Homo sapiens: one gene and its partners. The protein of the gene in region 1 interacts with the protein of each later gene in a biochemical or structural test. Each region holds a gene or a part of one and is shown in the gene's direction. Other genes may lie near its edges.

Evidence for each region.
Region 2: the proteins of PJA2 (region 1) and MFHAS1 form a complex in vitro, tested with the Homo sapiens proteins (one study listed by BioGRID).
Region 3: the proteins of PJA2 (region 1) and MOB1A form a complex in vitro, tested with the Homo sapiens proteins (one study listed by BioGRID).
Region 4: the proteins of PJA2 (region 1) and KSR1 form a complex in vitro, tested with the Homo sapiens proteins (one study listed by BioGRID).

Annotation. Positions count from the first base shown.
Region 1 is NC_000005.10:109,399,974-109,406,995, reverse strand, and holds part of PJA2 (E3 ubiquitin-protein ligase Praja-2), read left to right. Parts: intron 1-7,022.
Region 2 is NC_000008.11:8,890,619-8,898,068, reverse strand, and holds the start of MFHAS1 (malignant fibrous histiocytoma-amplified sequence 1), read left to right. Parts: upstream 1-4,438; 5' UTR 4,439-5,010; coding exon 5,011-7,450. UniProt on the Homo sapiens protein: Probable GTP-binding protein. Functions in innate immunity and more specifically the inflammatory response as a regulator of the Toll-like receptor TLR2 and TLR4 signaling pathways.
Region 3 is NC_000002.12:74,175,874-74,183,331, reverse strand, and holds the start of MOB1A (MOB kinase activator 1A), read left to right. Parts: upstream 1-4,452; 5' UTR 4,453-4,657; coding exon 4,658-4,671; intron 4,672-5,017; exon of another isoform or gene 5,018-5,077; coding exon of another isoform or gene 5,078-5,217; intron 5,218-7,458. UniProt on the Homo sapiens protein: Activator of LATS1/2 in the Hippo signaling pathway which plays a pivotal role in organ size control and tumor suppression by restricting proliferation and promoting apoptosis.
Region 4 is NC_000017.11:27,452,114-27,459,462, forward strand, and holds the start of KSR1 (kinase suppressor of Ras 1), read left to right. Parts: upstream 1-4,334; 5' UTR 4,335-4,530; coding exon 4,531-4,761; intron 4,762-7,349.

The DNA of each region.
Region 1 (7,022 bases):
CTATAAATTGGTATCATTTTGTCTAGAATTTCATGTAAGTGGAATGATGTAATACATACTCTTTTGTATCTGGCTTTTTCTCTTGGCATGTTTTTCAGGATTATCCATGTTTTTCTGTATTTAACGGGTTCTCATTTTATTGCTGAATAGAAGTCCTTGGTATTGATTTACTAGTTTGTTGACCATTCCACCTATTTACAGATACTTGGATTGTTTCCAGTTTGGGGCTGTTATTAATAAATAGCCTTCATTTGTTGAACATTCCTTTATTCAATGAACATTCATTTATTTTGAATTTTTGTGAACATCTTTTTTTTCTTGGTAAATACCTAGACATGGAACTTGTTGGGTTGTATGATACATGGATGTTTATAAGAAACTGCCAAACTGTTTTCCAGAGTGGTTGTCACATTTTACATATCCATCAGCAGTGTATGACAGTTCCAATTGCTCCACATCATCCTCAGCACTTGGTTATTTCAGTCTTTTAAATTTTAGCCCTTTTAGTGGGTATATAGTAGTATCATACTGGGATTTTGATTTGCATTTACCAGATGACTAATGGTGCTGAGAATTTGCTCTAGTGTATGTCTTCCTTTGTGAAGTATCTGTTGACATTTTTTGCTCATTAAAAAACAAACAAACAACAATGGGTGGGCCTGGCGCGGTGGCTCACGCCTGTAATCCCAGCACTTTGGGAGTCCGAGGCAGGCGGATCACGAGGTCAGGAGATCCAGACCATCCTGGCTAACACGGTGAAGCCCCATCTCTACTAAAAATACAAAAAATTAGCCGGGCGTGGTGGCGGATACCTGTAGTGCCAGCTACTCCGGCTGAGTTAGGATAATGGCGTGAACCCGGGAGGTGGAGCTCGCAGTGAGCCAAGATCGTGCCACTGCACTCCAGCCTGGGCGACAGAGCGAGACTCCGTCTCAAAAAAAAAAAAAAAAAAAAATGGGTTTGTCTTATTGAGTTGTAAGCATTTTTTAATACATTCTTTATACAACTCATTTGACACACAGAGATACATAAACACACACACACACTGCAATCTGAAGCTTGTTTTTTTTTTATTTTCCTAACTTTAAAAGAAGAGCTTTTAATTTTGATAAATTCATCTTACCAACTTTTTCTTATGATTTGTGCTTCTGTGTTCTAAGAACTCTTTGCTTAATGCAAAGTTGTGCAGATTTACTCTTAGGATTTTTCTATAAGTTTTCTAGTTTTGGCTTTCATGTCAAGGCACATTATCCATTTTGGGTTAGTTTTTGTATATGGTGTGTAGTAAGGGTCAAGGCTCATTTTCTTTTCAAATGTATATGTAGTTCTAGCACCATTTGTTGGGACTACTTTCCTTTCCCCATTGAATTAACTTTGTCAAAAGTCAGTTGATCATATATGTAAATCTGTTCCTGTACTTTTCTCTTGATCTTTATGCCTATAATTTTGCCAGTACTGAGTTATCATGGTTATTTTTACTTATAAGTATTGAAATTAGGTAATATGAATCCTTGAACTTTATTCTTTTTCAAAATTGCCTTGGCTATTCTAACTTTACCGTAAAGCTTTTAGAGGCTGCGTGTTGGTTTCTACAAAAAGACCTGAAGGGATTTTAATTTGGTTTGTGTCGAATGCATAGATCAATTTAGGAAGAATCGACATCTTGAGTCTTCCAATTCATGAATACAGGTTGTCTCCATTTATGTAGGTCTTCTTTCATTTCCTTTGTCAGCATTTTGTAGTTGCAGCATGAAGATGTTGCTCATTTTGTTGGATTTATATCTAAGTATTTAATAATTGATACCATTATAAGTGATAATTTTCTTAAATTTTAGTTTCCAGTTATTCACTGCTATATGTAAAAATACAGTTGGTTTTTGCATATGGACCTTGATGCTTGCAACCTTGCTAAATTCATTCATTTGAGTAAATTTTTTGTAGATTCTCTGGAATTGTCCTATGTAGACAATCATGTTATTTGCAAATATAGATCAGTTTTATTATTTTTGAATTTATATGTAACTCCTTCCACCTTTTCTTCTTCTTAGACTGGCTAAGACCTCCATTATGATGTTGAATAGCAGTGGTGAAAGCAGATATCCTTCTCTGTTCCTGATCTTAAGAAGAAAGCTTTGAATCTTTCATTATTGAGTGTGATAGAGTGGTGCTATAGCTTGAATGCTTATGTCCCTTCCAAAATTCATAGCATTGAAACATAATCCCCATTGTGAGGGGGATCTCAAGGAGGTGATTAGGTCATGAAGCTTCTGCCTTCATTAATGGATTCGTGTGCTTATAAAAGAGGTCCCAGAGAGCTCCTATCCCCTTATGCCGTATGAGAACACAGTGAAAAAACTGCAGTCTGTGAACCAGGAAGTGGCTCTCACCAAACGCTGAATCTACCAGCACCTTGATTTTGGACTTCCCAGCCTCCAGAACTGTGAAAAATAAATTTCTTTTATTTTTATTTCTATTTTTTTTTGACAGAGTCTTGCTCTGTCGGCTAGGCTGGAGTGCAGTGGCAGTCTCAGCTCGCTGCAACCTCGGTCTCCCAGGCTCAAGCAATTCTGCCTCAGCCTCCCGAGTAGCTGGGATTACAGGCGTATGTCACCATGCCTGGCTAATTTTTGTATTTTTAGTAGAGACGGGGTTTTACCATGTTGGCCAGGCTGGTCTCAAACTCCTTACCTCAGGTAATCCACCTGCCTTGGCCTCCCAAAGTGCTGGAATTACAGGTGTGAGCCACCGCGCCCAGCCGAGAAATAAATTTCTGTTGTTTATAAGCCACTTCAGTCTATGGGAGCTTGTTATAGGAGTCCTAATGGACTAAGACAAGTGGCCTTTTATCATATTGAGGATGTTCCCATTCTATTCTTGGATTGCTGAGAGGTTTTTGTTGTTGTTGTTGTTGTTGTTGTTGTTTTTGAGATGGAGTCTTGCTCTGTTGCCCAGGCTGGAGGGCAGTGGCACCATCTCAGCTCACTACAGCCTCCGCCTCCTGGGTTCAAGTGATTCTTCTGCCTCAGCCCCCTGAGTAGCTGGGATTACAGGTACACGCCACCAAGCCTGGCTAACTTTTTTGTATTTTTGTAGAAATGGGGTTTTACCATGTTGGCCAGGCTGGTCTTGAACTCCTCACCTCGTGATCTGCCCGCCTTGGCCCCCCAAAGTGTTGGGATTACAGGCATGAGCCACTGCGCCTGGCAGAGAGTTTTTTTTTTTTTTTTTTTTAAATCATGAGTGGATGTTGATTTTAGTCAGGTATTATTACTGTATTTATTGAGATGATCATATGGTTTGTTTCTGTGTTAATGTGATGAATTACGTTAACTTATTTGCGAATGTTGAATCATCTTCCATTCTGTGGTTAAACCTCACTTGGTGATGGTGTATTATCTACTATCATTTTTATAAATTGGTGAAATTTTTTTTTTTTTTGCATCTATGTTCATGAAAGATACTTTTTCATATAATGCTGGTTTCATAGAGTTGCAAAGTGTTTCTTATATTTTTGAAAAAGAATTTATTAGGATTAGTATTATTTGTTTTACAATTTTTTTTAGAGTTTGCATGTGAACTCTTCTGGTCCTAGAGTTTTCTTTGCTGGAAGGCTTCAAAGGATAAGTCCAATTATCCTTTAATAAATACAGGATTATTAGGGTTATCTATTTCTTCTTGAAAGCTTTCGGTCTTTGTATGAATCACTTTCACTCACTAAGTGAGCGTTAGTAGTTTTTGTCTTTCAAGGCATTTGTCTTATTTCATTTATTCGTTGTCATAAAGTTGTTTCTTAATTATTTTAATGCCTATAACGTCTGTAGTGGTGTCTTTCCTTTCATTCTTGTTATTAGCAGTGTGACCTCTCATTTTTATTTGGTTCTAGGTTTATTTTATTAATCTTTTCAGAGTCAACTTTTTATTTGATTGCTTTTTTTTTAATTGTTAGTTTTATTGATTTCTGCTTCTTACTATTTCTTTCTATATGCTTTGGGTTTAAATTCCTCTATGTTAATTTATTAAGGTGTAAGCTTAGGTCATTGACTTGAGACCTTTTTTCTTTTCCTTCCAAGCACTGCCTGAGGTGCTTACACAAATTTGATGCACTGATTTTTTTTAAAGTTCTTATGTCACTTCCACTTTGACCCATGAAGGTTGCTGTTTAATTTCCAAATATTTGGTGATTTTGCATGTCTCTTTCTTTGTATAATTTATTTTAAATTCTTTGATATTTGTTTTATGACCAGAATATGGTTACTCTCAGTAAATGTCCCATGTACACTTCAAAATAATGTGTATTCTGCTGTTTAGCAGTGGAGTATTCTATATCAAGTTGATTGATGATGCTTGTTAGGCCTTCTCTTTCCTTACTGAGTTTTTGTTTGTTTCATTGATCATTGAGAGAAGAGTTGAAGTCTCCAAGTATAATGGTAAGTTTGTTTATTTCTCCTTTTCAGTTTTTGCATCATGTGTATTGAACCTCCTGTTAGGTGCATGTAAATTTAGGATTGTTAAAACTTTTTGGTGAATGAACCCCTTAATCATTATATAATGCCCTCTTTATCTCTGATAGTATTCCTCATTCCAAAGTCTACTTTATCTAATATTAATACAGCCTCTCCAGCCTCCTTTTAGTGTTTGTATATTATTTTCCATCCATTTAATCTGTCTTTTATTTAAAATGGGTTTGTTCTAGACAGCCTTTTTTAATTCATCTTGAAAAATCTGTTTTTACATTGAAGTGTTTAGACTATTTACATTTAATGTAATTTTGATGTAGTTGGATTTAAATATACAATCTTAATTGTTTTCTACTTATGTGCTCTCTGATGCCTATTTTTGAGTGCATTTTATCTTCACCATTGGCTCACTACTTACACTCAACTTTTCCTCTCTTTTAAAAAGTTAATTGGCTTCTCTGTGATTTATATTTTACATCTTTAATAATAGACCATATGGAAGCAATACTATACCACATTTTATATAGTGTCAGAGCTTTACAACAGTATATTTACAATGTATATTTACAATTTCTCCTTATCTTTTGTGCTATTACTGTTTTACCTTTTACAAATGCCATAAATGCATAATACCTTGTAATATTTGTTTTATTCCTGTGCTGTCTAGTATGGTAGTCATTAGCCAGTGTAGCTATTTAAATTTGAATTTAAAGTAGTTAGTACAAGTTAAATTAAAATTGATTTTCTGTGTTATAGTGGCCTCTTTTCCAGTGCTTATTCTTTCTGCATGAAGAACTTCCTTTCACATTTCTTGGACTTCAATTCTACTGGTAACAAAGTTCCAAAGATTGTTTCACAAATACTTTGTTTCACTTTTTCTTTTGAAAGATTTTGCTGGATATAAATTTATTGTTCACAGTGTTTTTCTAATATTAAGGATGCTATTTATTATCTTTTGACTTGCACAGTTTCAAATAAGAATTTGGCTGTGATTCTTATTTAGTTCCTTTTTTCTGCTGTCAGTATCAAATATGTTTTATCAGTGGTTTTTAAATTTTATTTTATTTGTTGTTTTTTTTTGAGACAAGGTCTCGCTCTGTTGCCCAAGTGGAGTGCAGTGGTACAAGCTTGTCTCACTATAGCCTTGAGCTTCTAGACTCAAGCAATTCTCCCACCTTAGCCTCCAAAAATCCTGCATTTGCAGGCCTGAGCCACTGTGCCCAGGCTGTCATTGGTGGTGGTAGCGGTTGTTTTTGAGACAGAGTCTCACTCTGTCGCCCAGGTTGGAGTGCAATGGCGCCATCTCAGCTCACTGCAACCTCTACCTCCCGGGTTCAAGTGATTCTCATGCCTCAGTCTCCCAAGTATCTGCGATCACAGGCTCCCGCCACTACGTCTGGCTAATTTTTGTATTTAACAGGGTTTCACCATGTTGGCCATGCTAGTCTCAAACTCCTGGCCTCAAGTGGTCTGCCCTCCTTGGCCTCCCAAAGTGCTGGGATTACAGGCATGTGTCATTTGGTTTTTTTGTTGTTGTTGTTTTGTTTTTTGTTTTTGAGACAGAGTCTTGCTTTGTCTCCCAGGCTGGAGTGCAGTGGCGCCATCTCGGCTCACTGCAAGCTCTGCCTCCCAGGTTCATGCCAGTCTCCTGCCTCAGCCTCCTGAGTAACTGGGGCTACAGGCACCCGCAACCATGCCTGGCTAATTTTTTTTGTATTTTTTTAGTAGAGACGGGGTTTCACCATGTTAGCCAGGATGGTCTCAATCTCCTGACCTCGTGATCCACCTGCCTCTGCCTCCCAAAGTGCTGGAATTACAGGTGTGAGCCACCATGCCCGGCCATATCATTCGTTTTTTATAGCAGGTTAAAGATGTTAACATCTTGGGATATGTGTACATTTTTGTGTGTTTTGTATTTATACTGCTTTTGTAGGGGGGAATCACTGAGCTTCTTGGGATTTATGATCTTTTAAATAATGTATGAAAAATTCACAGCATCTTTCTCTTCTAATGTTTCCACTGCCCGCGACACCCCCCCGCCCTTCCCCCCCCTCCCCCTGCTGGTTTGCTCTCTTTTTGTGGGGTTCCAGTTAAACTCATGGCAGCTCATTTAATGCAGTCCACAATTCTTGGAGGCTCTGTTTTGGTTTTTGTTGCTGTTGTTTTTTAACATGTTTCTTTTCAGTTAAATCACTTTTTATCTAGGCTTGGATCATTTCTTTTGACTTATCTTTTTCTTTTTTTTTTTTTGAGACAGTCTCAGTCCATCACCCAGACTGGAGTGCAGTGGTGTGATCTTGGCTCACTGCAACCTCTGCCTCCCGACTTCAAGCGATTCTCCGTACCTCAGCCTCCTGAGTAGCTGGAATTATGGGCGTGCACCACCACGTCTCACTAATTTTTTGTATTTTTAGTAGAGACGGGTATCACTATGTTGGTCAGGCTGATCTTGAACTCCTGACCTAAAGTGATCCACCCATCTTGGCCTCCCAAATTGCTGGGATTACAGGTGTGAGCCACTGAGCCTGGCCTGATTTATCTTGAGCTCACTAAAAGCTTCCTCCC
Region 2 (7,450 bases), on another chromosome or scaffold:
TATATAATAGAGTTCCTCTTCTCCAAACAATGTTGTTGTTGTTTTTGCTTTTAGAAAAACCCTACCATTTGCAGGGCCACGCTTATCCTTTGCAGGGCCTGGGGAAAGGGTACACGGGAAGGCCCACATGCCACATGCCTAAATATCTAAATGTGTTACATCACCCTAACAGATGTGGCACATTCACACTCCTTGCCCTAGCCTGGGCTACATCCAGCACAGAGAGGAGCTTCGTCGGCACACAGCTGAGGTCCAGCTCCTGCACAACCCCCAGGTCTAGGGATGCCCACCTCAATAACTTCTTTCGAATGACTATGAAAGACTGCCCCACGCTCCCCATCCAGGCTTGAGGCTATTTGCATTGGGAATTCAGGGTCCTCCATACCATGTGTGTTCTAGAAGGTGGAGGGGGCGTGCCCCCTTGGCCCATCAGAAACTTAACCACACGGGGTACAGCATGGTGAGAGGAGGGCCAGGTTAGGTGCCCACGGCAGGAGTCCTTGCCTGGGTTGATACTTGAGAGGATCACTTGAGCACAGGAGTTCGAGATCAGCCCGGGCAACATAAGCAGACCCTGTCTCAATGAAAAAACAGAAAAGATGATACTTTCATGAATCCTCTTTCTTTCTTTCTTTTTTCTTTCTGAGATGGAATCTTGCTCTGTTGCCCAGGCTGGAGTGCAGTGGCATGATCTCGGCTCACTGTGACCTCTGCCTCCCGGGTCCACGCGATTCTCCTGCCTCAGCCTCCTGAGTAGCTGAGACTACAGGCACCCACCACCATGCCCAGCTAATTTTTGTATTTTTAGTAGAGATGAGGTTTCACCACGTTGGCCAGGCTGGTCTCGAACTCCTGACCTTGTGATCTGCCCGCCTCGGCCTCCCAAACTGCTGGGATTACAGGTGTGAGCCACTGCACCCAGCCCAGGAATCATTTCTATAGTTCTTTACGAAGCAGTTTCTTTGAAAGTGGAAAGCACAAAGAAAAAAAAATTTTAAAGCTATATGGAACACAATATCTTTTCATAGAGTTTTCTTTTATCATTGAGTTATCTTTTATCATTTGACTTTCTAGTTTTTAGCATACTGACTTTCTTTTGTTGTGTTGTGTTGTATTTTGAGACAGAGTCTCACTCTGTTTCCCAGGCTGGAGTACAGTGGTGCAGTCTTGGCTCACTGCCGCCTCCACTTCCCAGCCTCAAGTGATCTTCCCGCGTCACTCCTGAGTAGCTGGGACTACAGGTGTGCGCCACCACACCCTACTAATTTTTGTATTTTTTGTAGAGATGATGTCTTGCCTTGTTGCACAGGCTGGTCTCGAACTCCTGAGCTCAAATGATCTGCTCGCCTCAGCCTCTGGAAGTGCTGGGATTACAGGCATATACCCCTGTGCCCATTCACATACTGACTTTCAAAGAACTCATAGACAAGGATTCTTACAAGGCTTCCTACTATATTGACTGCATCAGCTGAGGGGCTCACAAAGAATTGCCACCCCCAGCACACTTATTCACTCCAGGCTTTGGGGCTTTAGTGGGGCTTGAAGCCCCTAGCGCAGGGTCCTAGCCAGTACTTTTTATTAGATAAAGCAAATTATAGATGATCTCCTGACAAATGAAGAGTGCAGTTTTCCAAGGACATTTAAAATAGAAGTATAAGCTGGTCAGGGTGGCTTATGCCTATAATCCCAGCTACTCAGGAGGCTCAGGCAAAAAGACTGCTTGAGCCCAGGAGTTCGAGTCCAGCATGGGCAACAAAGCAAGACCCCCATCTCCAGAAAAAAAAAAAAAAAAGAAAGAAAGAAAAGAAAGGAAAATATAATTTTCTTCAGAGAAAAAGTCTCACTCTGTCACCCAGGCTGGAGTGCAGTGGTGTGATCTTGGCTGACTGCAACCTCCGCCTTCTGGTTTCGAGCAACTCTCGTGCCTCAGCCTCCTGAGTAGCTGGGGACTAAAGGTGCGCACCACTATGCCTGGCTAATTTTTGTATTTTTAGTAGAGATGGGGTTTTGACATGTTGGCCAGGCTGGTCTTGAGCTCCTAACCTCAACTGATCCACCACCTCGGCCTCCCAAAGTGCTGAGATTACAGGCATGAGATGCCATGTCCGGCCATTTTTCTTTTTTAAAATAATTTTTTAAATGAAAATATTATTAAATAAATGAACACCATGAATTTGCATGTCATCTTTGTGCAGGGCCATGCTAATCCTCTCTGTATTTTTCCAATTTTAGTATATGTGCTGCTGAAGCAAGCACAATTTTCATTTTTTTCAATTGATTTCAGCTTCTGCAGGAGGAAGTATAATTTTCTGATGGCTTCTAAAGAGGAACAGTTAGCAGTTATTGAGATATAATCATGTAAGGTGGTGTAGGATGGTGATGCCTACTCCAGTCTCCTTACCCAGGCTGAGTTCATATTTTTGTTAGAAGAAGCTGCAGGATGGAGAATTTGGGGTCTGGCTCAAGAACAGTGTGAGTACAGGTGATGATCACAGGGGAATACATTCCACACGGGGAGTTAGCAGTCCTGCCTCTACTCTACTTTGATGGCTGATTGAGAAGTCACTTACTTTGAGCCCATTTCCTCCTCTGTGGGGGAAAAAAAGGGTCAGCCTAGATAACTCAGAATATTTGTTGTAAAATTGACTGTCTCTGGGAGGGAGTGTGGGTGGGGCTACCCTGAGCCATCTGAACTCTCGGAAGTCCTTCAGAGTGAACACAGATCAGCTCTTGCTGTTCACTTACTCACATTTCATCTGTGGTGTCAGAGCCTCAGGGACCCAGCAGAACTGGGGAACATCCTCCAGTTACAGCATGTACTACCTGCAGCCTGATAACCATCACTGGGGTGGATTTCCAGCCTCAGATGTTCAGGTGCTCTTTTTGGAAACACACACTTCTCACGTTACTGCACCAAATATGGGTCCCCAAATGACAGCCATAGCGCATGTCGGGGAGAGCTGCAGTGGGTCAAGTGATGCCTTTAACCAACTGAACGCAGTTTTCGGTCCCTGAAAACTATTTGCTTCCTTATCAATCAACCTGAAGGGAATGATGGAGGTGACACTGGGAGTCTTGGTAGGTTTCCAGACTTTCATAAGTTCGGGAGAAATTATTGACTTAGCATAGATGTGAGCTCAAAGAAACATTTCCTAACAGCAATAAAAATAAGCATTAGAGTTGAACAATGGACTGTGACTGTTTCCCAAAATAGCTGTTTTCTTGAGTCCGCAGAACAACAGGTACTGTATTAATGGGGATACAGTATTTGTTTCACAGCGTTGTTGTGAAGATAAACGGGATACCCCAGATAAACAGCTTGTGTCCCCCCCATCTTAACAACCCTCCTTTAGGCTGGCGGGCCACCTGCTCAAAAGCCTTCCCCAGGGGGGTTAAAACCGTCTTTTAGTAGTTCTGGTACGGGTGGGCTGGGGGAGATCCTCTAAAGCCAGTGCGACCTTGACCCCAGCCAATGTCCAGGCTCTTGACACATCCAGAGAATGAGTTCAAGGACAACTCAGAAAATAGTGACAATATGCAGATTTATTGCAAAGGGAAAAGTACACACCCAGGAAAAGGGATTGTGGAGAGGGTCACTCACAACGGGGCTTGGGGCTGCTACCTTTATGGGTTTCTTTAACCAAGGGGTGAAATATTCATGAAAATTCCTGGAAAAGTGTGGAGATTTTTCGGGACTGTGGTGCCACCCATTTTTACTTCAAATATGGGTGTCCCCGGAATTGTCATGGCACTGGTGTGACTTAGGATGTTAAAGAGCGTATAATGGAGGCCTAGGAGAAACCTAGGTCAAATCCAGGACCACGTCGGGTCCAGCCGGTCTTAGCCAGCTTGGTACACACCCTGGTTTTCAGGGTCTTATCAGCCCATAGCCTCCAGTCAAGTGAAACTGCTGCCTGGTATTTTTTATTCTCCTCTGACCAGCCTGCATTACTCCTGTCCCATGTTCAACACGAAATAGGGCCTCAGGAAATATTTACCAAATGAATGAATGGTTGCCTGTTCTAATTTTGTTTAACCACACTCTTGTCCTAAGCTTCTATGATGATACCCAGGGCCCCCGAGTTGTGCCAGTTCCACTACGGCGTGGATGCAAGGCGAGCGGCAGGGGAGCAGGTAAAGGATGAGTAAGGGAAGCCGGCGGATCCGACGCATTAGAGAACAAGAAAAAGAAATCCTTAGAGACTGGGGGCCAACAAAGAGCCAGGCGCGGGCGAACCCACCAGGGGGGCCCCGGAGCCCCACATCCGCCGCTGGGACGACCTCCCCGCCCAGCATGGTCCGGGGCGCGGACCCGGCCCCGCGCCAGGCGCCCCCGGCCCCGCACCCGGCGCCCTCCGCAGCTCCCGCCCCCGGGGCGGTGCCGGGAAAACGCGGCGCCTCCGCCGGTCACGTGGGGGCCGCTCCGGCGGGCGGCGCTGCCGCTTCCCAATCGCGCCCTCCCAGCGCCGGGGACGCGGCGCCCGCGCTCCCGCCCGAGCCCGGGGAAACGGAGACAAGGAGGCGCCGCCGCCCCCTCCCCGCGGCTGCGCCCCAGCCCTGCGCCCGCAGCATGCCCGCCGCCGGGCCGAGCGCCGCCCTCCCCCAGGAGCTCGAGGAGGCGACGCCGCTGCCGGCCGCGGGACCGCGGCTGCGAGGGTAGCGGGGCCGGAGCCGGGCCCCCCGAGGCGCCGCGCGGCGGGCGGAGAGGGAGGAGGAGCAGGCATCCTCCGCGGCGCGCGGGCGGCGGCCCTGCTGCCCGGCGCGCCCATGGCCCGGCCGCAGGGAGAATGCAAGCTGCTCTCCACGCGCTCGGCGTCCCCCGGAGCCGCTCGCGTCGCCGCCGCCCCCTAGCCGCCAGCGCTCGGCCGCTGGCTGCGCTAGGACCCGCGGCCGCCGGCCGCCGAGCGCGGGAGGGCAGGCAGGGGCAGGAGCCGGAGGGCCCGGGGCGCGGCGCGGCATGTAGCTGCGGGCTCCCGCGTCCGCGTGAGGCTGTCGGCCCGGGGCCCCGCCATGGCTGGGATGGACAGTGGCAACCTGAAGACCGCGAGGCTGTGGCGGGACGCCGCCCTGCGTGCCAGGAAGCTGCGGAGCAACCTGCGCCAGCTCACGCTTACCGCCGCCGGGGCCTGCCCCGGGGCCGGGGCCGACGCGCTCGAGTCCCCCGCCTCCCCCCAGCTCGTGCTGCCGGCCAACCTCGGGGACATTGAGGCACTGAACCTGGGGAACAACGGCCTGGAGGAGGTACCCGAGGGGCTGGGGTCGGCGCTGGGCAGCCTGCGCGTCCTGGTCCTGCGCAGGAACCGCTTCGCCCGGCTGCCCCCGGCGGTGGCCGAGCTCGGCCACCACCTCACCGAGCTGGACGTGAGCCACAACCGGCTGACCGCCCTGGGCGCGGAGGTGGTGAGTGCTCTGAGGGAGCTGCGGAAGCTCAACCTCAGCCACAACCAGCTGCCCGCCCTGCCCGCCCAGCTGGGCGCTCTCGCTCACCTGGAGGAGCTGGATGTCAGCTTTAACCGGCTGGCGCACCTGCCTGACTCCCTCTCCTGCCTCTCCCGCCTGCGCACCCTGGACGTGGATCACAACCAGCTCACTGCCTTCCCCCGGCAGCTGCTGCAGCTGGTGGCCCTGGAGGAGCTGGACGTGTCCAGCAACCGGCTGCGGGGCCTGCCTGAGGATATCAGTGCCCTGCGTGCCCTCAAGATCCTCTGGCTGAGTGGGGCCGAGCTTGGCACGCTGCCCGCCGGCTTCTGCGAGCTGGCCAGTTTGGAGAGCCTCATGCTAGACAACAACGGGCTGCAGGCTCTGCCCGCCCAGTTCAGCTGCCTGCAGCGGCTCAAAATGCTCAACCTCTCCTCCAACCTCTTCGAGGAGTTCCCTGCCGCGCTGCTGCCCCTGGCTGGTCTGGAGGAGCTCTACCTTAGTCGCAACCAGCTCACCTCGGTGCCATCCCTTATCTCGGGCCTGGGCCGGCTTCTCACCTTGTGGCTGGATAATAACCGCATCCGCTACCTGCCGGACTCCATCGTGGAGCTGACCGGCCTGGAGGAGCTCGTGCTGCAGGGGAACCAGATCGCGGTGCTGCCCGACCACTTTGGCCAGCTCTCCCGGGTGGGTTTGTGGAAGATCAAAGACAACCCACTGATCCAGCCCCCCTACGAGGTCTGCATGAAGGGGATCCCCTACATCGCAGCCTACCAGAAGGAACTGGCTCATTCCCAGCCGGCGGTGCAGCCCCGGCTCAAGCTGCTCCTGATGGGGCATAAGGCTGCAGGAAAGACTTTGCTGCGCCACTGCCTCACCGAGGAGAGAGTGGAGGGATGCCCAGGAGGAGGGGACAAGGAGAAGTGCTACCCACCGTCACCTCCCCCTGTGAGCAAGGGCATCGAGGTGACCAGCTGGACGGCCGATGCCTCCCGGGGCCTGCGGTTCATCGTGTATGACTTAGCTGGGGATGAAAGTTATGAGGTGATCCAGCCCTTCTTCCTGTCCCCAGGGGCCCTATACGTGCTGGTGGTCAACTTGGCCACCTATGAGCCTCGCCACTTTCCTACCACCGTGGGCTCCTTCTTGCATCGGGTCGGGGCGAGAGTGCCCCACGCGGTGGTGTGCATCGTGGGCACCCACGCAGACCTGTGCGGAGAGCGTGAGCTGGAGGAGAAATGTCTGGACATTCACCGCCAGATCGCCCTGCAGGAGAAGCACGACGCGGAGGGACTGAGCCGCTTGGCCAAGGTGGTGGACGAGGCACTGGCCCGGGACTTCGAGCTGCGCTCTGCCAGCCCCCACGCAGCCTACTATGGCGTTTCGGACAAGAACCTTCGACGGCGCAAGGCCCATTTTCAATACCTGCTCAACCACCGGCTGCAGATCCTCTCCCCCGTGTTGCCTGTTAGCTGCAGGGACCCGCGCCACTTACGACGCCTTCGGGACAAGTTGCTGTCAGTTGCTGAGCACCGAGAGATCTTCCCCAACTTACACAGAGTACTGCCTCGATCCTGGCAGGTGCTGGAGGAACTGCATTTCCAGCCACCTCAGGCCCAGCGACTGTGGCTAAGCTGGTGGGACTCGGCGCGCTTGGGCCTGCAGGCGGGTCTGACCGAGGACCGACTGCAGAGTGCCCTCTCCTACCTGCATGAGAGCGGCAAGCTACTCTACTTTGAGGACAGTCCGGCTCTCAAGGAGCACGTCTTCCACAACCTCACCCGCCTCATCGACATCCTCAATGTCTTCTTCCAGAGGGATCCCTCTTTGCTGCTGCATAAGCTGCTCCTAGGGACCAGTGGAGAGGGCAAGGCGGAGGGGGAAAGCTCCCCGCCCATGGCGCGGTCCACCCCCAGCCAGGAACTGCTCCGGGCCACCCAGCTCCATCAGTATGTGGAGGGCTTTCTGTTGCATGGGCTCTTGCCAGCTCATGTCATTCGGTTGCTGCTTAAGCCTCATGTCCAGGCCC
Region 3 (7,458 bases), on another chromosome or scaffold:
AATTTTTTTTTTTGAGACACAGTTTTGCTCTTATTGCCCAGGCTAGAGTGCAATGGCGTGATCTCGGCTCACCGCAACCTCCACCTCCCAGGTTCAAGCGATTCTCCTGCCTCAGCCTTCCCAAGTAGCTGGGATTATAGGCATGTGCCACCAAGCCCGGCTAATTTTGTATTTTTAGTAGTGATGGGGTTCTCCATGTGGGTCAGGCTGGTCTCGAACTCCCGACCTCAGGTGATCCGCCCACCTCGGCCTCCCAAAGTGCTGAGATTACAGGCGTGAGCCACCGCGCCTGGCCTATTTTATTTCATTTTTGAGTCAGAGTCTTGCTCAGTCACCCAGGCTGGAGTGCAGTGGTATGATCTCAGCTCACTGCAGCCTCTGCCTACTGGGTTCAAGTGATTCTCGTGCCTCAGCCTCCCAGCCTCAGCTGGGACTACAGGCACACGCCACTATGCCTGGCTAATTTTTGTATTTTTTTTTCTTTTTCTGTTTTTTTTGAGACAGAGTCTGGCTCTGTCGTCCAGGCTGGAGTGCAGTGGTGCGATTTCGGCTCACTGCAACCTCCGCCTCCAGGGTTCAAGTGATTCTCCTGCCTCAGCCTCCCTAGTAGCTGGGACCACAGGTGCACGCCACCACGCCCGGCTAATTTTTGTATTTTTAGTAGAGATGGGGGTTTCACCATGTTGGCCAGGCTGGTCTCGAACTCTTGGCTTCAAGTGATCTGCCGACCTTGGCCTCCCAAAGTGCTGGGATTACAGGCGTAAGCGACCATGCCCAGCCGCTGAGTGAGTTTTTGATTTCTGATAAATTGGGATTTCTCCTTCACAGTCTGCAAAGTCTGCAACCTGAGTACTGAGATAATGGACAGGGACAGCTTACCAACTTATTTTATTTTATTTTTATTTTTTTGAGGCAGGGTCTCTCTCTGATGCCCAGGCTGGAGTGCAGTGGCACAGTCTCCTTTCACTGCAGCCTGGACTTCCTGGGCTCAAGGGATCCTCCCACCTCAGCCTCCAGAGTAGCTGGGACTACAGACTCAAGTCACCATGCCCAGCTAATTTTTGTATTTTTTGTAGAGAAGGGGTTTCACCATGTTGCCCAGGCTGGTTAGCAACTTTACTGTTTGTTTCTCTTCACCTATTTGTGACAAAGATTAAAATTCCTTAATCTGTCACAGGAGTAGAGTTTTTTGTTTGTTTGTTTTTGTTTAAAAAAAAAAAAAAAAGCTTGAGCTCCCAACAGCACCAACTGGCTGGGAGGGGCAGGAACGTTACTGCGACCAAAGTGGGAAGATGCCCTGTGTGGGTGAGGTTGTTAGGGTAAAACGGGAGTTTTGCAAATGATAGGATGGGCACTTACACAGAATGAAAATGCAGAGTTGCAAATCCTGCCTCAGGGAGCTAGAAAGGGGAACTGTGTGTGATGAAAGGCGGGTGGGGAGAGGTTCAGAAGATCTAGTCCTGGAGGCCTCATAATTTGCCGCTTAGCTTCTGCTTTCAGCATCTGCTGTGACCAGATGGTGTGCAGTGATCTCTGGCCGGCTAAGCCAAGAAGTGAATAAAACTTCTTCGGTCTTTGTATAGACCTTGTCTGGTAGGGAACAAATTGTCCTGTAGCAATTAGCAATGAACAATTTCTTTTTCTCTCTTTTACTGGAAAAATCTTATCTTTGATATCTAAGTGAACTATGTTGATATCGTGCTTAAATATTGATTGAGGATTTTTCCCTAACCCTGAAATCCTCCCTCCCTGCTACCCCAACCAAATTTAGCCATCCTGAAAGGTTTTTCTTATAAATAGCTGGACTTCTATCCTCAGTGATTCTTCAACTTGAAGAAAAATACCATTGAAAGAGGGAAACCTTTCATGAATTTCTTTTTTCCCATGTTATTTGGAAATTGTTTTTATGATATTATTTAAGTAATATAAATTACCACAGAAGTATAAATAGATGTACCTTTTTTCTTTTTTTTTTTTGAGACAGGGCCTCACTTTTGTCACCCAGGCTGGAGTACAGTGGTGTGATCTCGGCTCGTTGCAGCCTCTACCTCCAGGGCTCAACCCATCCTCCCGCCTCAGCTTCCCAAGTAGCTGGGACTATAGGCGTGCACCCCCACACCCGGCTATCTTTTTTTTTTTTTGTAGAGATGGGGGTTTGCCATGTTGCCTAGGCTGGTCCCAAACCCCTGAGCTCAAGTGATCTGCCCACTTTAGCCTCACAAAGTGCTGGGATTACAGGTGTGAGCCACCTCGCCCGGCCTAAATCTGTGTTCCTATATTTGTAACTTCCATATAGCGATATCAAATCGCATTTATTTATAAATCAAATTCCAAAAAACTACAAAAGTTTAAAAAATTAAAATTATTAATTTATTTTTTTCAGGGGAGGAAAAAGAGTATGTAAATTTGCTTTACATAACTGACTGAAAAATATATTCAAGAAATAGTAAATATAATTTAATACAGTCTCATGTGCCCTAACATCATTAACTTAATGTGACAAGTGATATATGAATGAAATAAAATTACTGGAAACATGAACATTGTGCAGTCAGGTACAGGGCAAACTCCTTTACATTGAGCACCCTGCACCACCATTTGCTGAGCTATGACTGAAGTCTCCCACTATTTTCCTTTTGTTTTCTTCATTCCACCATGGTGGAATGAAGGCGTTGCTTGGCTGTCACTTGGCATTAATACCACACAAAAGCCTGTACATGAATGTTCACGACAGCATTATTAATAATAGACAAAAAGTGGAAACAACCCAAATGTTCCTCAACAGATGAATGGGTAAACAGAATGTGGTATATTCACATAATGGAATATTACTCATCCATAGAAAGAAATAAAGTTTTTTTCTTTTTTCTTTTTTTTTTTTTTGTTTTAGAGACAGGATCTGGCTCTGTCACCCAGGCTGGAGTGAAGTGGCGCCATCTTGGCTCACTGCAGCCTCCATCTCCTGGACTCAAGGAATCCTCCCGCCTCAGCCTCCCGAATAGCTGTGACCACTGGCACACACCATTACGCCTGGCTAATTTTTGTGTTTTTGTAGAGGCGGGGTTTCACCATGTTGCCCAGGCTGGTCTCGAACTCCTGAGCTCAAGTGATCCGCCAGCCTCAGACTCCCAAAGTGCTGGGATTACAGGCGTAAGCCACAACTGTGCCTGGCCAGTAATGAAGCTTTGATACATGCTACAATATGGGTGCGTTTTAAAACATTATGCTAAGTGAAAGAAGTCAGTCACAAAAGACCACATAATGTATGCTTCCATTCACAGTGTATATGAAATGTCCAGATTAGGTAAATCCATGGAAATAGAAAGTAGAGTAGTGGTTGCCAGGGGTTGGGAGGAGGGAGGTGGGTAATAAAGAGTAACTGCTAATAGGTATGGGGTTTCTTTTCGGGGTGATGAAAATGGCCTAAAATTATGGTTAGGCTGGGCGCGGTGGCTCACGCCTGTAATCCCAGCTTTGGGAGGCCGAGGCGGGTGGACCACTTGAGGTCAGGAGTTCAAGACCGAGACCAGCCTGGCCAACATGGCGAAACCCCGTCTTTACTAAAAAAAAAAAAAAAAAAAAATACAAAAATTAGACGGGTGTGGTGGCGCACGACTGTGATCCCAGCTACTCGGGAGGCTGAGGCATGAGAATCACTTGAATCTGGAAGGCAGAGGTTGCAACGGGCCGAGATTGCACCACTGCATTCCAGCCTGGGTTACAAAGTGAGACTCTGTCAAAAAAAAAAAAAAAATTAGTGCTGATGGTTGGCACACTTTGAAAACATAAACAAAGCCGGAGGCAGTGGCTCACACCTGTGATCCCAGCATTTTGGGAGGTCAAACCAGGAGGATCCCTTGAGCTCAGGAGTCCAAGACCAGCTTGGGCAACACAGTGAGACGCTCGTCTCTGCAAAAACTTTGAGAAAATTAGCCGGGCGTGGTGGCAGGCACCTGTGGTCTCAGCTACTCGGGAGGCTGAGGCGAGAGGATCACTTAAGCCCAGGAAGTCCAGGCTGCAGTGAACTGTGAACTCCAGTCTGGGCGACAGAGCGAGACACCTCAGAAAAAAAAAAAAAAAAGAAAGAAAAAACCGAAAAAGACCACTAGAGGGTACATGTTTAAAGGACAGATTTTATGCTATGTGAATATATTTCAAGTAAAAATTAAATTAACAATTTTAAAAATTGCAGGAGTACGCAGCGCTTATAGAGGTCCCTGCATAACCTAGGGAGCGGGATCGAAACCCAGCAGCACCAAGATACTCTAAGAGCAGGACCAGCCACTGCCCCTTCCGCAGGACCGCCATCCTCGCCACGCCTCCGGGGGAGGGAGGTCCTGGCTTGGAGAGCGATGATTGGCCGAGTTCTAGGACGAGGCGGAGCGAAAGGGGGCGCGACAAGTCCCTCCCGGCGCAGCGAAACCTTAGCTCGCGAGATTTTGTTGGTTCCGCATTTCGGGTCTGCGAGGTGGGGTAGGCGGGCAAGGCGGGCGCCGAGGTTTGCAAAGGCTCGCAGCGGCCAGAAACCCGGCTCCGAGCGGCGGCGGCCCGGCTTCCGCTGCCCGTGAGCTAAGGACGGTCCGCTCCCTCTAGCCAGCTCCGAATCCTGATCCAGGCGGGGGCCAGGGGCCCCTCGCCTCCCCTCTGAGGACCGAAGATGAGCTTCCTCTTGTGAGTGGGGTCGGGCCGCGGGCGCCGGGCCTGCGGGCCGAGGTTGTGGGGGAGGCCTCCCCGGACCTGAGGCGAGGGCTCGGCCTGGGGGCCGAGGCGGGGGCGGGGTAGCTGGCGTTTGTTTTGCCTCTGTTCGGGTCCGCGGGGGAGGCCGAGATGTTGGGAGAGGCCGACAGAGATGAAGGTCGAAGTAAAGGAAACGGAGCGTGAAGGCTGGGGAGTAGAAAGGCCCCGGGGCCGTCGCGCCTCCAAACTTTTCCGCCCGAGCGCCCCCGAGGGCGGGGAGACGATCTGGGGGCGGAGCCGCGAGCCCCCAGTTTCTCTTGTCTCGAGCTTCTAGAAACCGTCCTTGCCGACTTAACTCGTTGCTCGGTTATAGGTCCAGTTTCATTATTGTCGGTGTTAAATGCCGCCCCAGGAGAATGTGCGTTGCCGCAGTTTGAGAAGCTTGAAGTTAAGATGCTGGCCTTGGAGTCGGATCGTTCTGTCCAGTTCTGATTCTGCCCACTTACTGGCTTTGATTTTAACCAACTTCTCTTGTCCTCGGTAGAATCCTGTGTTTTTAATCATTATGTAATATACCATACAGCATTATTATATAGTACATTGCAGTATTATAAATAATTTGGAAAGTTAAAACAAATTCATAGTCCCATTGCAGAAACACAGTATTGCCATTTTAGTGCACTACAGCAATTAACTTGATAGGCATACCTTAGAATCTCATTTTAGAGATAATGCCTGAGCCCAACCAAACAAGGCTAAAATGAAAAAGCTTGTAAATTCCCTGATGATTCTTATGCACATTAAGGTTTGAGAAGCATTGCTCTGGCACAGTATTTTTTATTCTCAGGTGTCTCTCTCTACCTTGTATATTGCTTAAATGTGTGTTTTGTGATTGAATAATTATCCAATTTTAGTTATGGATGTAATCCACATGCTTGACATTTTTATTAAATACAATATAAAAACACTATATAGTTTTTTTTTTATTTTTTATAACCAGAGTTTACCCACTTTATTGTGAGAAACTGGGATTCCTTCCAGTATTTACTATTATAAAATAGCACTACTCAGAATATGTTTATCTGCGTCTCATTTTCCTTCCTTTGGGTTATTCTCGTAAATGAATGGTCTCTAAAATACGATTACCTTGTCAAAAAGCCTGTATGATTTAGATTTAACTTCCATATTAATAGAAGTATTCCTCCCTCCTCCACTTTTTTCTTACGAGTTGATATTTAATTAGTGAATGCACAGTTGCTTTGTGGACCTTAATACGAGACTTTTTCTTTTTTTTTATTTTTTGAGACGGAGTTTCGCTCTGTCCTCCAGGCTAGAGTGCAATGGCACGGTCTCGGCTCACTGCAACCTCTGCCTCCGGGGATGGCACGGTCTCGGCTCACTGCAACCTCTGCCTCCCGGGTTCAAGCGACTCTCCTGCCTCACACTCCCGAGTAGCTGGGATTACAGGCGCCGGCCACCACACCTGGCTCATTTTTGTATTTTTAGTGGAGACTGGGTTTCATCATGTTGGCCAGGCTGGTCTCGAACTCCTGACCTCAGATGATCCACTCCCGCACTCGGCCGAGACTTTCTTTTTTTAAAACTTGGCCTTCTTGATGGACACTTGAGTTGTTCCCGCTTTTTGGCCATTATGAATAATGCTGCTGTGAACATATGTGACAGGTTTTTGCGTGGATGTATGTGTTCATATCTCTTGGGTATATACTTAGGAGCAGAATTGCTGGCTTAAGTGGTAACTATGTTTAACCTTTTGAGGAACTGCCAAACTTCAAAGTGCTGCACCATTTTACATTCCCATAAGTACTCTATGAGGGGTCCAATTTCCCCACACCTCTCATAGCACTTGTTAATTTTCTTTTTTTTTTTTTTTGAGACAGAGTCTTGCTCTGTCGCCCAGGCTGGAGTGCAGTGGCTCAATCTCGGCTCACTGTAAGCTCCGCCTCCCGGGTTCACGCCATTCTCCTGCCTCAGTCTCCCAAGTAGCTGGGACTACAGGCGCCTGCCACCATGCCTGGCTAATATTTTGTGTTTTTAGTAGAGACGGGGTTTCACCGTGTTAGCCAAGATGGTCTCAATATCCTGACCTAGTGATCCGCCCACCTCGGCCTCCCAAAGTGCAGGGATTACACGCGTGAGCCACTGCGCCCGGCCTTGCCTGTTTTTAAATTGGGCTGTCTTTTTGAGTTGTAGGACTTCTTTATACATTCTAGATACAAGTCTTTATCACATCTATGATTTGCAAATATTTTCTTCCTTGTTCAATATAGTTTTTTTTATCATGTTAAAAACTTTTCAGATATGATTTTTAGTGTTTTCATCATTCTTTTTTACCTCCTTTTTTTTTTTTTTTTTTTTTTTGAGACAGGGTCTCACTCTGTTGCCTAGGCTGGAGTGCAGTGGTGCGATCTCAGCTCACTGCAACCTCTGCATCCCGGGTTCAAGCAATTCTCCTGCCTCAGCCTCCCAAGTAGCTGGGATTACAGGCACTTGCCACCACGCCCGGCTAGTTTGTGTGTGTGTGTGTGTGTGTGTGTGTGTGTGTGTGTGTGTAGTAGAGGCGGGGTTTCACTATGTTGGTCAGGGTGGTCTCAAACTCCTGACCTCAAGTGATCCACCCGCCTTGCCCTCCCAGAGTGCTGGGATTACAGGTGTGAGCCACTGCACCCGGCTCTTTTTTACTTCTTAATCAGTCTTATTTAAATTCCAAATTACTCAGGTAAAGTAAAAGTCCATAGTTCTATTCCATTCCTCTTCCTAGAA
Region 4 (7,349 bases), on another chromosome or scaffold:
TGTTCCCACTGCCTGGAGTGCTCCTTTCCTGGAACATTCCACATGGCTTGCTTTTCCTTATTTACATCTTAGTTCAATGGTCAGATAATAATTCTCTGTCCACTTCACCTAGTGAAGTACCTTAGCCACCAGAGACTCTCGGCTATTTGCTTTCTTCTTCTTCTGCGTAGCACTTATGATTCTCAGTTTATTTTGGTAATATATTTGTTGACATTCATTTCCTGTCCTTCCCTTCATGTATGTTCCACAGGGATAAGGACTCGGCTTCCTTCGCTTTGAGCCTACCCCAGAGCCTGGCGCATGCTAAGTGTCCTCTTCATGTTTCTTGGGCCTGTGCATGAAAATGCTCCCACCGCTGCTGTTGGTGTTTGGATGCAGACAAGCTCGGAAAAGCAATGAAGGGACCCGAGACAGAGGAGAGGAAGGAGAGAGTAAGCAAACTTTCTCTACTGAGGTGCCTCAGAAAAAGCCTCAAGAACCTGGAGATGATGCTGAAACCCTGAATCAACACATAATAGATCAATTCATCTAACTAGAAGAGATTCATTCTGGAAGGTGAGGAAGAAAGTAATGCATAGTTCAATGAGTTAAGCATTTGGAACAGTTTCAGTAGACATACAGTAAATATTTATCAAATAAATAAATATGCCGAACCCTTATTTTATGACCATTACTTTGTGTTATATAATCTGTTCATCCTCATAAAACATTATCACCATCTTGCAAATAAGAAGCTGTGCTACCAGATTAGGAGATTTGCCCGAGGTCATATAAGACTCGTCAAAGGTCATACAGCGATTCAGAGACAGAGCTGACTACCCTACTCTCTAAAACAGCTCTATTCGAAGTTGTAAAGGCCATATTCCCTGTCCCCTTCCCTGCAGTGCCATACCACCTGTTACCACTGACACACTGTGCATTTATCTGCTTGTCTGTTTCCTCTCACCACAGCATAAATTCCCTAAGGGTAAGAATCTTCATTTTGTTCACTACCCTTTTCCAGAGCCCAGAACAGGGCCTGCCATGTAAGTGGCACTTCATGAATGCTTACTGAATGTTAAAAGGATGAATGAAGGGATTATTTAAAAATCCTTATTTCGGCCAGGTGCCATGGCTCATGCCTGTAATCCTAGCACTTTTGGGAGAGTGAGGCCAAGAACAGGAGTTTGAGACCAGTCTACATGACACAGCAAGACCCTGTCCCTACAAAAAATTTAAAAATTAGTCAGATGCGGTGGCAGGCACCTGTAGTCCCAGCTACTCAGGAGGCTGAGGCAGGAGGATGGCTTGAGCCCAGGACTTTTGAGGCTGCAGTGAGCTTTCTCGCACCACTGCACTCCAACCTGGGCAACAGAGCAAATCCCTGTCTCTTAAAAACAAAAAACAAAAACAAAAAAGTTTCTCCACCTCTGAGGGGCAGTTCTGTAAACTTGTGGCTGACAGATGACTCAAATCCAGGCAAGAAGGCTGGAGGCCATCTGTGAGGAAGGAAAACTGTGGCCTGCTGAATGCTCTGGATAATCAGAGGGAAGACTGTATCCACAGAGGACAGACTCGCTGCATGGAACCTGGCGGGAGAGTAACCAGGGAGCTGGCATTTGTCCAGTCTCAGGCTCTGACATCACCCCTGTGGTGACATGGGTGGGCATGAATGCCACAAGCTGGCAGTGGCTCTTCTCAGGATGTGGCTTCCCACATAAAGTGGCCCTAGAGGGAGAATGTGATGACCAGGTCCCTGTGGCAATAACAAGTTTGATGTAAGTGCATAAATAGGCACTTACCAGAACATTTCTTGTGAGCCAGGCATGGTAGTTCACGCCTATAATCCCAGCACTTCAGGAGGCTGAAGGGGAAGGATTGCTTGAGCCCGAGAGTTTGAGACCAGCAGCCTGGGCAACGTAGAGAGACTCCATTTCTAAAAAAAAGGAAAAAAAAAAAAAAGTTAACGTTAGCCGGGCATGGTGGCACACTCCTATAGTCCCAGCTACTTGGGAAGCTGGGGTGGGAGGATCGCCTGAGTCTGGGAGGTCGAGGCTGCACTGAGCCATGATCATGCTACTGTACTCCAGCCTGAGTGACAGAGCAAGACCCTGTTTCAAAAAAAAAAAAATCTTTTGTGAATTGTGTTAGAATGAGTGAGTCGTTCAAGCCTGGCAGCTCTGGCTGCTGGACAGAGGCTCTGAACCAGCCAGGTTGGGTTGTGGATAGTCCCTTGAGATAGTTCTCTGCCCACTGACCTTCCTCTGTGCCTAGGCTTCTCAAAGTATAGACTTGCGACTGGGCTCAGACTAACCACATCAGTACCACCTGAGAACCTGATAGAAATGCAGATTCTCCTGCCCTGTCCTCTGATCTACAAAATTAGAAACTATAGAGGTGAGCTCCATGGTTCTGGGAATTAACAAGCCCTCCAAGTGATTCTGATGCATGTTCAAGTTTGAGAACCACAACTAGTTTCCCTTTCATAATAGTTACTACTTTGCAAGGAGTCGGATGGGGTTAAGGTAACAGGTTGAGAAATTCATAATATCGTGCAGGCGGTCTTTTTATAAGTTGAGTGAGGACTGGATCAATGACTCTCAATGGGAAAGGCCAGGGGTTAGGGAGGAACCTCCTTGCATTTGGAAAATCTCGAGGAGGGGTTAATTTGCAAAAACAAGTTTTAAAGTTATAGTTTTGCTTCCTAGACCTGATTTTTAAAAATTTATTATTTTTTTTAGAGACAGGGTCTTGTCACATTGCCCAGGCTGGTCTCGAACTCCTGGCTTTAAGTGATCCTTCCCCCTTGGCCTCTCAAAAGTGCTGGCATTACAGGCATGAGCCACGGTGCCCAGCCCTTAATTTATTTCGAAGGCTGGTGTAATATAAACATTAAAGGAAGGTGTAATACAAACTGCCATCCATTATTGATTGTTTTAGTGTCTACAAGGTTTGGATCCCACCTCCTGTCCAATTCTCATCCTCAAACACAAAAACAAAACCAAAAAAACAACTGTCTATCTACACACACACACACACCCTCGGCTGGCCTGAGAGGTAAAAGAAACATCCCATAGGACCTGCTGAAAGAGCTCCTGAGGCACGCTGGAGCCTTTCTTGTGTGCCATGCACTGTATCTGGCACTATAAAGAGGGTACAATAGCTAGTGGCTTCTGCAATCAAGCAGCTTACAAGAGAAAATTGAGAGGGGAGACATTTTTTCTGGTTGACAGATGTCGAAAGCATGAAGGTGTGGGAGCTTTGATCAGAGACTTGGTTTTTCAGTTTTGCCAGATAATAGAACGCATGGGGTGAACTAATGGGAGAGGAGGGTGAACAGATGGGCAAGGCTTGATTGCTGGGTTAGGAGGCACAGAAATGCACAGAGGACAAAGGACTACCAGTCCTTGGCAGTACTGTACTGCTCCATGGCCACTACCTGGGTCCAGGGCCACATTCAGATCTGAGGTTAGATAGTAAGAATTGCTAACATTTATCCAGCGACCACATGTGCCAGTAATCAATCTAGGTGCTGTACATGTATTAACTGATTCTTCATAGGAACCCTATTAAAGAGTTATTTGATGAGGAGAGTCGGGCATTCACTGGAAATCGAACGTGCCCAAAGTCTCACCCTAGACCGTGGTGGAGTCAGAATTTGAATCCTGGCCACTTGCTCCGAAGCCACCGACAATTCAGTGTGCTGTCCCCCGTGTCTGGGCTGGCTTGGTGGGCTGGGAATGGCGGGGGAATGGGACACTTATTTTGGCAGGTAAATGTGGTTCAGAAGAAAGCTCTTCGTCTTTCTCCAAGCCTGAGCAATCGTTTTGGCGCAGGCAGTCCAGAGTAGAGCGCTTTGTGAGCCAGCTACAGAAGTGCTGTAAGCCCCTTCCCACTAGATGGCAGCCCCTAAACCCACATACAAATCCTGGAACCTCCCTGGTCCCCATCTTCCAGGGCTGGGCTGCAGCTGAGGAACTGCGGGACGCACACCCGCCGGGCGTCCAGGGGGCGCCGCCCCATCCGGGGGTCGCGGGAAGCTCCTAGGCCGGGTGGGGGACGGAGGCGGACGGGGAGACGCTGCTCCCCCGACTCTCGGCGCCTGGGGGAGGAGCTGGCGCGGAGCAGCTCCACCCGGGGCTCCCGGTTGGGGCCGGCCCTCACCGCCTGCCTCGCCGCGGCCGCCGGGAGGGGAGGGGAGAGGAGGGCAGGGAGGGCGGCGCGGGCGCGGTCCGGGGCCCCGAGGGCGGAGGCCGGCGGCAGGTGCGCGGCGTGGACTACAAGTCCCAGCATGCCCGGCCGCCCTGACCCAGCCCCCGCCGCCGCTTAAAGGCTCCGGGAGCCGCAGCCGTCGGGTCGCCGCGGCTTTCGCTTTGCTGCCGCGGCTGGGAGGGTGGAAGCGGCAGACTCAGCGGCCGGCTCTACCGGCGTCCCGGCTCGGGCAGCGCCGAGGGGCGCTCCTGGTCCAGCTCTCCTGGCTCGGGGGTTCCTTGCCGAGGCGCCCGCGCCCCGGGCTCCCAGCCTCGGCCGCCGCGGCCCCGATGCCGAGGCATGGATAGAGCAGCGCTGCGCGCGGCGGCGATGGGAGAGAAGAAGGAGGGCGGTGGCGGGGGGGATGCGGCGGCCGCGGAGGGAGGCGCAGGGGCCGCGGCCAGCCGGGCGCTGCAGCAGTGCGGGCAGCTCCAGAAGCTCATCGACATCTCCATCGGCAGCCTGCGCGGGCTGCGCACCAAGTGCGCTGTGTCCAACGACCTCACCCAGCAGGAGATACGGACCCTGGAGGTAAGTGGGTCGGGGACCAGGCTGGGCTCGAGGAGCGGGCCCGGACACCTCCCTCCGGGCCCCAGTACTCCTGGCCGAGTTGCATCCTTGAGCCCGCGTCGCCCCCCTTGGAGGCTTCCCCTCCCTCCTGCACTCGCTGATGCGGCAGCCGGAGGACCCGGGACCAGCCCTCATCTTGGGCAGGATTTGTGGGGCGGGTGCGTCGTGGGAACTGGGATGGAGGCTCGAGGGGCCCGTGCGGGGTGGGCTGCGCGCGGACATCCCCTTTCCCCCCTTCTCCGCCCCCACCCCATTTCCAGTTTGCGGGGCCGCAGGACTCGTTGTCCCACCGAGTCACAAGCTGGACTTTTCCCCGTGTGACTGAGCCGAGCACCCGTGGGCCAGGGTGACGGAGGAGGTTCCCCTGAAGCGTGATCGCAGGCCTGCCGTCCCCTGTTCCCCTCACGCCCCAGACGCCGTCCTGTCCCTTCCTTTCCTCTCCTCTCAGGTCTTGTCTGCCGCCTTTTCAAAAAGTGTTGCTGAAACTGCATTTTTGTTATTCAGGCGTTTGGTGCTTTCCTTTCACGTTGCCACGGAGGCTCGCTGCTTAAAATGTATTAATAATTACCCGCTGACTCCCCCTGCTTCCCCCCAAAGATTGGATTTAGGCTTAGGAAGGATTATGCTGGGAAGCAAGCCTTTGGTGGGAAGATGAAACTGTTTAAAGGGTTCTGATGGAGACAGTCTGGAGTGTAAAGAAGAAATAAGATATGCGGGCCTTCCTCTCTCAAATTATAGCTGGGGAAGTATCTGAAGGATTTGGAAAAACCAGCCCGAGGGTTGTTGGGGCACCCTGTCCATACACAAATGAGGGCAACTAGTGGATTCTGAATGTGATTTTGGCCAGGGACGGGGCGGTGAAACGTCAGACCAGTTAATAGCTGCCCCGTCTTGAAGAAGGAACCTCTCACCATCTTGCCCTGCCACATCTGGCCTCCTGCAGGTCTGGGGATGTTTTGTTTTATTAGATCCTCAATTTCTCCTCCCCCAAACCCTCCCCCCGCCCCTTATTGCTAATTGCCTCTGCCAGCTGTCATAAGGCCCTCTGTGATCGCGGTAATTATTACAAGACCAATCCTTCCTCCAGGCATGCCACAAAGCCGAATCCTTGTTTGATTCCAAATGCTCGGGGGTGACTCTCCCTCAGTTTTATTTTCTTAAAAGCTATAAAACCACAGGACATTGGAAGAATACAGTCAGTGCTGGGTATTATTATTTTTTATTACAGTTGGCTAAAGCTGTACTGACCAAGGCTTTGCTTAAAAAACAAACAAAACCCCCTACAACTGGCCTTTCTGCATGCATGCTGCAGTTTTCCAAGTATTGAGAGAAACTGATTTTTTGAACACAGCTGAGTGTGTTTGCTCAGCAAAGTTCAGTTTTTAAGCTGACAACAATAGGGGGCCTGTGAGGCTCAGTTCCGGGAGGAGGGGTCGCTGTCTGGCAGAGTGTGCGTGGTTGGACTTCGGTGTTGCTGGGCTTGGAGAATGCTCTCTGTGTTGGCCTCTGTGGGATTGTCCCCACGTTGCTCTGAAGTGCTCCTGGCTTCCAGAGTGTGTATATAGGAGAACCACTTGCTGTGCATTCTCTGGAATGGCCTTTTGTCCTACCCTAACTTCCGGAGTCCCTCATTTTGATGGCAGTGTGGCGTTCATGACACCCCAGAGCATCCAGCTATTTAAGTGTTGGAGCTGGTTTATTCAGTGGCTTCCCTCCTGAGTGTTTGTTTAGACGATCATCCCTGGCAGCAGAGAACCCATCCAAAGGCCCACAGGGGATCTGCAGCTCCCTGTTCTTCCCACCGTGATGTGGATTCGGGTTCACTCCACTTCCTGAAAAGGCAGGGCCTGGGTTGTTTTGGGGGATGGGAATTTAGACCCCTGGAGTGAGTTCCATGGGGCTGCCACCAGCTAGTTTAGATGAGTCACTTCATCCCGGAGGCCTCAGCCTCCTCACCTGCAAAACAAGGAGGCTGGAGTGGATCTCTGAGGGCTCTGGAAGCTCGAAATTCTCTAGGTTAGAGAAGGAGACTTGGTTGGGTGAAATCAAATGTTTGTGATTGTTTTTATACTACCCTGGTTTAAGAATAACCCTCTTTAAGAATGGTTCTAAAATCCAGATTTACTGAACCCATAACATAGGGGTTAAGTTTATTAGAAGAATCTTTGCCATAGGAGCAGCGTGGTGAATAGGAAGCCCCATGGCTTTCATACTGGGCCTGGGTTCTGTCTGTGTGACCTTAGGCAAGTCCCATGACTTCTGAATCTCAAGCTCTCCTGTCTGTAAAATAGGAACGAGACTGCTCACACCTGCAGCATTTTGTCTGTCAGTCCGTGCTGATACTACGAAAAGAGTCTGCCTGGCAGCTGCCCCTAGTGAGGGTCCAGTAGCATTTATGGCACAGGCCACCACTAGGGAAACTTAACCCCTACTGGACCCTTGCTAGGGAAACTTAACCCCCTACTTTATGGGTTCAGTAAATCTGGATTTTAGGGAAAGGTACTTCTGCAGCTGCCTCTCATTTCATACAGGTGGGTGACACAAGCCAG